Linked DNA regions of Homo sapiens. The protein of the gene in region 1 interacts with the protein of each later gene in a biochemical or structural test. Each region holds a gene or a part of one and is shown on either strand. Other genes may lie near its edges.

Region 1 (5,080 bases):
TCCTTGTATGGAAAACGAGAACCTCCTTATCCTCTCATCCTAGCCTGGATCATTCTAGTGCCAAAAGCCTACGGAGGCCTGGGGCAGCACCTAGAGGGTGCAGGACCCATGAGCCTGAGCTCATTTGACTGCTGGCCCCAGCTCAGCCTGGCCACTTCCTCCCCACACCCCTTTGGGTCATGCTCAGAAAACATATGGGAAGTGAGACTTTCAGAATGACTTGACTGAAGCGTGGGGGACTTGTGAGCCCTGGGATCAGCCACCTCTCCATGCACAGTGGAAATAATGAAAGCTCCAGGTGAGAGCTCTTGTAACCCACATTGTTTACAATGGACAGCATCCCACAACAGACACATGCCAGGACAGCAGCACATGGAATGTGGAAACAGCACTGAACTTGAACTTGGAGACAGAAAACCCAGGTTCTGTAACCTTGATTGAGCCTTACCTTTCTCATTTATAAAATGACAAAAGAAGATGCAAGAAGTCAATCTACTGAAAGTGGTTCACAAGCTAAAAGGCTCTCTTCAAATGGAAGGTCTTACTGTGGTCAAGTGCTACAGTGTCCCACCATCACAGGACGCAACCTGGGTCTGATGTGAGCAGGCTACTCAAGCTACTTCCCCTCTGGCCCAACTAAGGTGGCCACACAGCCATAATAAGCCATTGGTTACTGCAGATGCTTACAAAGGAAACCTACCTTTAATGTTGCTTCATCCAGAACCTTCACCTCCTCGATGAGTTTTTTTAATTCTTCTGAGCTCAGCAGGGAGATAACGGACTGACCAGACTGAAGGGAACTGTGGTCCCCATCATCGTCTTCCTTGGCTTCCGTGAGACCCTCTGTATATTCTCTCAGCTCTGAAAGGCTTTCATAAGGAGAAACAACACACAGTATGAACAACAATATTAAAAAGAGGTAACAGTGATTGTATAATTACTATGTCCCAGGTGTGGTGCCAAGCACTTATGTGCATATTATTTGATGCAACAAATCTATGAGTAGATACTAGCATACCTTCACTCTACAGATATTTCCCAGCAGTGTAAGAATAATAAATAAAACTAATAAATGCAGAGCTACTTTGATCAGAGGGAAGACCAAGCCCCAGCCCTACAGCAGGGACCCTATGGCACGTCTGACATCCTCTTGGTTCTGCATAGAAGGTCTCATCCATCTCCTAATTTCAACTGACAAGGAATCTGAGGGTGAGCATGGAAAGAACCTGCTCATAGTCAGAATCAGTGCCTAAGCTGAGACTAGGACCCAGACATCCTAACTCCCTGACGAGGGAGTTGAACCCACGTGCAGAGTACAAGTGGATTCCATTTGGAGAGTAAGAATTCCTGATGGATAATTTCCTGGCCTCATTCTGGTCTTTCTGAGTAACCGCAGGACATTTCAGATGTGCATCAACCTTCCAAATCTCCACAGGCGTATGTCAGCCCTCATGAGCAATTCACCAGGGAGCCAGTCCCACCTCCTACCTCCCAGCCCTCCTGAAGCCAGATGTTGTGAAAACTCCTCCTTAATGTGAAAGGCAGAGGTGTAATACCTACAGACAGACACACACACACTCAGACATCTGCACACACATGGAAAGAAAGAGGCAGAACAATTCTTTAATCAATATATCTGGGAATTTTTTAAATTATATATAGGATTATTTTTAAAAATAAAGATGAGAAAGAAAAAGATGAGAAAGGTAAAGAGAAACACCGGGTGTAGAAACTCACTTGAGCGAGAACCCTGTGTCCAAGGCAGATGTTTCAGCAGAACCATTTGCAGCTGAGTCTTCGTTGGATGATGATGTTGGAGATGCCCCTTCCTTGGGGATGCAGGGAGTCTGGGCACAGGAGATAGAAGATGGAAGGCACAGCAAGGATTTCATGACAGCCGATGACACTTGGCTGCTGATAGAATAGAGTTTGCTGGTCTTTTCGTCAAGTAGCTTCGTCTCACAGGACTGGGACCTGGTCAGGGGGAAGCTCCGTGCTCGCTGGCTAGGCATCTTGAGCACTGGGCCTTGAGATTCCTCAGCCTGTGTTGACAGCAGCCTTAGGAGCGGGTCCGGGCCAGGGGGGAGAGTTTTCTGATTGGGCTGCCGCCCTGGGGGAGGGGACTCAGACACACCTGGGTCTCTGGCCTCGGAGGCTGCAGGGGACCCCGAGGACAGTACTTGCTCAGGCTGCTGGGGCACAAGAGTGGGTGCAGCCCCTCGCCCCAAGAGTCCAGAAAACCGTCCTTCCTCATGCTTCCCAAGAGGTTTTGCTGCCTCCCCAGAGGAGGGCTGGAGGCTCAGTCTCTGGGCTCCTTTGTCAGGCAGTTGAGAGGAGCCAAAGGTTTCAAAGGAGCTGATTCTCTGCCTGATGGAGGAGGAGGAGGAGGAGGCCCGGATGTGTGATCCTAGGTGCTCCCTGGAAGCAGGTGCTGGCTGGGTGGACAAGGCAGGATCAGGGAGCCCTCTTGGGTCTGAAGCACGATTCCTCAAACCTTTCAAGCTTTGGCGAAACCAGGCTGGCTTGGGAGCCACAGGAGGACCTTTCTTCACAGTGCTGCTGTCTGCTGACTTGTAAACTTTGGGAGTGCCATTGGCGGTGTCCAGCTTTGGTGGGGTCCCATCTGGGTGGCCCTGTGTCCCTTCTTCTTCATTCAGGCTGGCATTGGGCTGTAGAGGCATGTGGCCATGGTTCTCACTCATGATGGGGCTAAATAAGTTTTTGATGCAGTCAGAAATCCTAACCCAAGGGTCTTCGGCTGTGGTATCAAAGCTATAGTCCATCCGAGCCTGCCTCTTAAGCAGTGGGTGTTTTATCGGGGATGTTTGGGTCACTACAGTGCAGAAACAAGGCCAAAGCTGTGCATTACATCATACAGTGACTTTTCTTCCTAAATTCTAGTTTCCAAGCTGAACAGCAAGAAGGATTCAAGAGGAGGAGATTAGCAGAAGTGGGGGACACCCAGGTGGGTGAACTCCAGGTGCTATTACCTGACTGAGCTGCCAACAGGCAGGAGTGAAGGACCAGAAGTAGGAGTTAATCTCACAGTATCCTAGTGTTTTAGGCCTGGAAGGGTGCTCAGAGAATATCTGGGCCGACCTCTGGCATATTACATTTCAAGAAGGGTAAGGGGCCATCTGATGGCAGTGCTCAGGCAAGACCCTGTGTCTCCTGACTCTTGAAGTTCATGTCCTTTCTACTGCACTAAGGAGCCTCCAAGATACCATGTTAAATGTGTAAAAGCCAAAGCAGTTCTCCTGCCGTTTAAACTTTTAAGACAAAGGTCATGAGTTGGCAGCTGTTTGTGCTTTGACCTACCCGTGTCATTAAAAACAAGGTGCCTGTGCACAGCTTCTGATGGGGCCACTTCGGCTTCCCACAGCTCTTCACGCTCCCTCTCACCCAGCCAGCATTTCCCATGTATGTACCTGCCTGGCCCTGAAGCCGTGTGTTTGCTGCTCTGCCTATACACAGGTCATTGATCAGCTTGCTCTCGGCAAAGGAGTGTTTTCCCTCCCTCAAAAGCTGATGAAAAGGTTCCAGGTAGAAAGGAATCTGTGAAGTAGGATTCTCCACCTTGGCTACATACTGGAATCTGGAGGGCCCTGAAAAATACTGACGCCCACCCCTAGGTACTGACTGAAGATACCTGGGATGCAGCCTGGGTGTTGGGAATGTGATGAGCAGGGGATTGCAATGTGCAACCTGCTCTGTGCCAGCCAGGACCTCAGGCATGCCCTGGAGCACATAGGAGTCTTTCTCAGAAGCCAGCATTGAACCAGCATCATATCTGCATGGGTAAGGGAGAGGGTGTCCTGGCTCTCTTTCCCAGGGGCAGAGGGAGGCTGGCCTGTGTGCCTTGGGGGATGCTTGCTACTGGAACGCAACCCAGTTGAAGGAACTCTGATCCCTCCTGTCCCTTGTCTCAATGCCAGGTTTCAAAAGAAGTGAATCATGGAGCATTACACCTTGATGATATCAAAGAGAAATTCTGCACAATCTAAGAGACTGGCCTTGGGCAAGTGAGCCCAGGCCTCCAGCCTGTTTCTGCATTTTTGAATGGCTTGGCTGTAAGGTGCTGTTGTGAGAATCAGGAGGCAGAGGTTCCACAGGCAAGCCCTTTGCAGATTGGAGTGACAACCTCCTGTCAGTTAAACACTGAGGCGTTTGCTTTTGCTAGAATGTTCCTCAATTAGGGTGACTAAGGGAGAGGAGCCTCCACCCACAGGGCCTCTGCTCTGGGTGAGATGTGCTAGATCTTTCCAAAATGTCCCTTAGCCCTCCAAAAGTCTTTCATGAGCTTTTCTGTAGTGTTACTCAAACAGTCATATGTTTTATAGTCTATATGTTTATTTCCTGCCACTACTAGTTGCTCCTTGGAGGCAGGACCTGACTACCTGGTCTCATCCCTTTCTCTCTCTCCCCCCAGCATCTAGCACAGGGCCTCACGAAGCCAGCATTCAATGTGTGCTTGCTGAATGCATCATATGCTTGGGGTCTACGTGCTCTTCCACACATTGCTGATGAGTGAATCTGGGCTCAGAAAGGCAAAGTAGGTTGCTCAGAATCATACTAATGACAGACAGATCCAGGATTCCCTGACTTCAAGTCCTATGCTCTCTCTAGCAAGCAAATAAATATTCAAGTCATGTCTTAGCATTGTCAGGTGTACCATGTGGACACACCCTTGCTATCCACCTCATGGAGGAGGTGACCACTGGTAGATGCTATTTATACTTTTCTGGCGTTGCATTCTCTGACTCAGAAATCCTGAATGCAGCAGGACTGTTGCAACTGGAATGTTGGCACCCTAGAGGTAGCTGCCCAGGATGGCTGGGTGGGTGTGTCTTTGGACCTCTTCCAAGGGCTCCATCCTCCCAATTATCCAGAATGGCCTGCATTCCTGCTGCCACCCCCACAGCATCACCCGTCCACCCAGGAGGCTCCCCACCCTGGACAGCACCTCCACGGTGCTGCTGCCCAGCACCTGGAACCCTTGACTGTTGATCAGCCAGGTCCAGTGGTGATGTCAATGCAGAGCACTCTGATCCTCAGGCCAATTTGTGCTCTTATCTTATCC
Region 2 (4,289 bases), on another chromosome or scaffold:
CATCAGCTCTGTCACCAGGTACACGTGTTTGCCATCATCATACACCTGCCGAAGACCTCACCATCAGGCTCTTCTCCCCAGTGTCAGGCCTGAGCCCCCTGGTCAGCAGCGCCCCAGAGCAGGGAAGAATGACATGAGCCTTGGGCAGGTGTTCTGCTTGCTCTTCAGTGGTCCTGCCTTCCCCAAAAGGAGGATGCTGACACTGGTCTCCTGATACGCAAGAAGGTCCTCAGAAAATGTCTGAGTCTGAAGGAGGGCCCTTGGGGTATGGGCAGACTGAAGGGACCAAGGGACCTCCTTCCCCTCCACATGACCACTGGAAAGAGGATGAGAAGTCAAAGGAATGGCAATCCTGAGACAAATCCTGAGAGTTGAGTTCCTGGTCCCCACCCCAGTCTTAAGGACCCCCACTCACATCTTTCAGAGTGATGATGTTGGGGTGCTGGCCATACCGCAGAAGAATCTCAATCTCTTCTGAAGGATCCCGCTTGCTCTTATCAATGACCTGAAGAAAGGGGGTGCATGTGGCAGTGTCAGGGTGACAGGGTCCAGGGTCCTTTCTGGCCATGGAGCAGGCCAGGAGGTCTCGGCCACACACCTTTCATACATCTGCAGAGCTCAGGCACCATCCCTCCCCACCAGACGGGGACCTGCCCCCAACCCAGCAGCCTTGGCCGAGACGTGGTCAGGAGGCCCACCTTGACAGCATACTCCATGTTGGTGGCCTTGTGGACACAGCGCTTGCACTCAGAGTAGGAGCCCACACCAATTGTCTCCTTTACCACGTAGCCGTCACTAAAAACCAGGTTCTTCCCATGGAGTTGCTGTAGGAGACCAAAAATTGTGGCTGACCCCTGGCTCTAGAGTGCTAGGGGTCATCCCCCAGGACCTAAGGTCTTGGCTCAGTAGAGACAGCACCAGGGAAGGGCCAGGAGACTTGGGGTAGAGTGTTGGCCATGTGACCGCAGGTGACAGCCTGCCCCTCTCTGGGCCTCAGTTTTCTACTCTATATAATGGGCATACTCACTGGCTCCCAGCCTGCCTGGACTGCAGCCTGTGGTCAGAGGGCAGTGTAGGGAGTGGGAAACAGGGTCACAACACACATGGAGAGGACTTTAGTTCTGAAAAGTCTGGGCAGGCCTGGGAGGGACGCAGGAGCCCTGAGCTGAGTTCCAGCTGTGCCACTAAGTACGGCTTTGAGTGGCCTGCCTCCCTTTCTGGGGTGTCACAGCTCAACTCATGGGGTGTCTCAAGGTTCTGGGACATTAGCCGTAGCAATGCTGAATGGTGCTTAGTGTGTGCTGTGTGCCAGGCACTATTCTAAGCACTTTCATCAGGTGACTGCATGCCCCACGGCCAGCCCTGGCTTGCGCATGCGGTCCTTGCATCCAGTCTGATTTAATATTTGTCCTGGACTAAGATGTCCCAGTTTGGAAAATAAATTACATAGTCACCTTAACTTTATTTTTTATTTTATTTATTTATTTTTTGAGACAGAGTCTTACGCTGTTGCCCAGGCTGGAGTGCAGTGGTACGTTCTCAGCTCACTGCAACCTCTGCCTCCCAAGTAGCTGGGACTATAGGCACGCGCCAACACGCCCAGCTGATTTTTGTATTTTTAGAGACGGGGTTTCGCCATGTTGGCCAGATGGGTCTGTTTAAATTCCTGGCCTCAAGCAATCCACCCTTCTTGGCCTCCCAAAGTGCTGGGATTACAGGCATGAGCCACCGTGCCCAGCCCACATGAACTTTACATGTATTAACTCTAATAATCCTCATAACAGCTCTATGGAGGAAGCTTCTATCATTTCCCCCATTTACAGATGAGGAAACTGAGGCACGAGGAAGGGAGTATCTCATCCAAAGTCCATTATCTGGTCAGGTGCTCATGTCTGTAATCTCAGCACCTTGGGAGGCTGAGGTGGGCGGATCACTTGAGGTCAGGAGTTTGACACCAGCCTAGCCAACATGGTAAAACCCCGTCTCTACTAAAAATACAAAAAAAAAAAAAAAAAATTAGCTGGGTGTGGTGGTGTATATCTGTAGTCCCAGCTATTCGGGAGACTGAGGCAGGAGAATTTTTTGAACCTGGGAGGTGGAGGCTGTAGTGAGCTGAGATTGTGCCACTGCACTCCAGCCTGGGCAACAGAGCAAGACTACGTCTCAAAAACAAACAAACAAAAAACCCCAAAGTCCATTATCTTGTGAATCTGGAACCCATGCAATGAGCTCCACAGTCTACATTCTTGCCTCTCAACCTGAAACTTTCATTAGCAGTAGAAGTGTACAAATGGGGAACAAGTGTGATGAGATCCAAGTCCTTCGCTACACTTATGCCGGAGACACGACAGTCACTCGGCACCACCACCCTGGGCACCTCCTGACATGTACCCAGACCCTGGCTCTGTGCTGGGAAATGTACACCCATATCATCATCCAATTATCAGGGCCACTGTGTGAGGTGGGCCTTACTGTCCCTGTTTTATGTTGGAGGCCCTACTGGTCCCACAGTGGCATGAGGGTATGAACCTGGTTCTGTCCAACTCAGAGCCTGTGTACTCAGCCATTCTTTAGAAAAGGATAATGGAGCAGCAGCCCCCTGCCCCCCTCACCTGTACCACCGAGTGCAGGGGTGCCTGCGGGGCACGAGGCTTGCCGTCGTCTTCCATCAGGCCGGTGGCCACGAAGCTGAAGCCCCGGAACAGCTGATGGGCCCCAGCGCTGGGGGGGATGCCTGGGGAATCTGTACGGATGGAAGGAGAATGTGAGGGTACCTGAGGAGGTCCCCTCGACCCTGAGGCAGCCCAGCAAAGGGGGAGCACAGGGCCTCCAGACCTGCCTCAGGGGCTGGCCGTGGCGGGAGCCTGCAGAGGGCCTGTCCATCACAGGCCTTGGCCCAACTGCTCATATGTGTTTATTAGACCAGCCCAGTCCTGTCGCATGAGGAACAAAAAAGACTCTCACATCCACCTCCATCCCAGGCCAAGACAGTTCATCCCTTCCTGGATGCTTCCTCCCCAGCTTCCCCATCTTACGTCAGCCCCTTCAGGTCCATCTCTGCACAGCAGCCAGAGGGAAGGTTCCAACCACAAATCTGCCACCCTGCCCACACCTTTCAAAGGTTCCCGTCTGCCTTCAGGAGTAAGTCCAGCTCCTGAGTCTGGCAATTGAGGGCCCTGTGATCCTCACCTCCTCTCTCTCCATACCACAGCTGAGCCATGTTGGACTTCTCAGATCCTTAGAGGGGTCTCTGAGCCCTTGCACACACTGTTCCCTTTAACTAGATAATCCACTCCTTGCCTATCCTTCAAGACTCAACTCGCACGCTCCCTCCTCTGAGAAGCCTTGCCTGATGCTGCTCCTCCGGCCCCTGACTCCTACGAAGCTGCACTTGTCACGTTGCCCAGCGGACTGCTTGGAGAAGTGCTGTCTCTGTCATCAGAGGCGTGCAAGTGCAGTGAGAAAAGCACCCCCTTGTGGATCACCTGAGGTCAGGAGTTCGAGACCAGCCTGGCCAACATGGTGAAACCCCGTCTCTACTAAAAATACAAAAATTAGCCAGGCGTGCTGACACATGCCTGTAATCCCAGCTACTCGGGAGGCTGAGGCAGGAGAATCTCTTGAACCCAGGAGGTGGAGGTTGCAGTAAGCTGAGATCACGCCATTGCATTCCAGCCTGGGCAACAGAGCGAGACTCCATCTTGAAAAGAGGAGAGGAGAGGGAAGGGAAGGAGAGGGAAGGGGAGGGGAGGGGAGGGGAGGGGAGGGGAGGAGAGGGGAGGGGAGGAGAGGAGAGAAGAAAAGCACACCCTCTCCTAAAACATGCCCTTATAGGAGGTTTCCCAGAACATTCCACCCCACACCCACTGTCAATATCTGGCCAAAAAGTTAGGATTCACCAGGTTCCTTCCCAGAAGCTCCCTCACTGGCTTCTTGTAGCAACCCCAGGGAATGAGTGGGTTTGTGGCTGTGCCCTTGTTCCAGATAAGTACACGGAGGCCGGGCAGTCAGGGCAGCCAAAGCTGATTCCCATGCCTGTCCCTGACCTATGGGCACTGTCACCTCTGCTCAGCCACCACACAGTGTGGCTGGGTCAGATTCTTTCTCCCTGACGTGATGGTAAGCCTGATGTGTTTGGTCTTCCCAGTGGGCTGGAAGGTGCCCCGGGCAGGGGTCCTGGCTTTTCTACTGTGGCCTTCACCACCCACACATCCCCACTCCCACTCTCTCACCAGACACAAAGAGACCCACAGAGCCCCATAGTGAGAGAGTCGGGCGGAGTGAGACAG

The links. The genes of interacting proteins can lie anywhere in the genome.
Region 2: the proteins of IL16 (region 1) and RPS6KA1 interact in a test that uses a peptide from one of them, tested with the Homo sapiens proteins (one large-scale study listed by IntAct).

What each region holds. Positions count from the first base shown.
Region 1 is NC_000015.10:81,297,133-81,302,212, reverse strand, and holds part of IL16 (pro-interleukin-16), read right to left. Parts: intron 2,910-5,080; coding exon of another isoform or gene 2,866-2,909; exon of another isoform or gene 2,834-2,865; coding exon 1,738-2,833; intron 870-1,737; coding exon 701-869; intron 1-700. UniProt on the Homo sapiens protein: Interleukin-16 stimulates a migratory response in CD4+ lymphocytes, monocytes, and eosinophils. Primes CD4+ T-cells for IL-2 and IL-15 responsiveness. Also induces T-lymphocyte expression of interleukin 2 receptor. Ligand for CD4.
Region 2 is NC_000001.11:26,557,261-26,561,549, reverse strand, and holds part of RPS6KA1 (ribosomal protein S6 kinase alpha-1), read right to left. Parts: intron 2,744-4,289; coding exon 2,613-2,743; intron 825-2,612; coding exon 699-824; intron 506-698; coding exon 416-505; intron 46-415; coding exon 1-45. UniProt on the Homo sapiens protein: Serine/threonine-protein kinase that acts downstream of ERK (MAPK1/ERK2 and MAPK3/ERK1) signaling and mediates mitogenic and stress-induced activation of the transcription factors CREB1, ETV1/ER81 and NR4A1/NUR77, regulates translation through RPS6 and EIF4B phosphorylation, and mediates cellular proliferation, survival, and differentiation by modulating mTOR signaling and repressing pro-apoptotic function of BAD and DAPK1.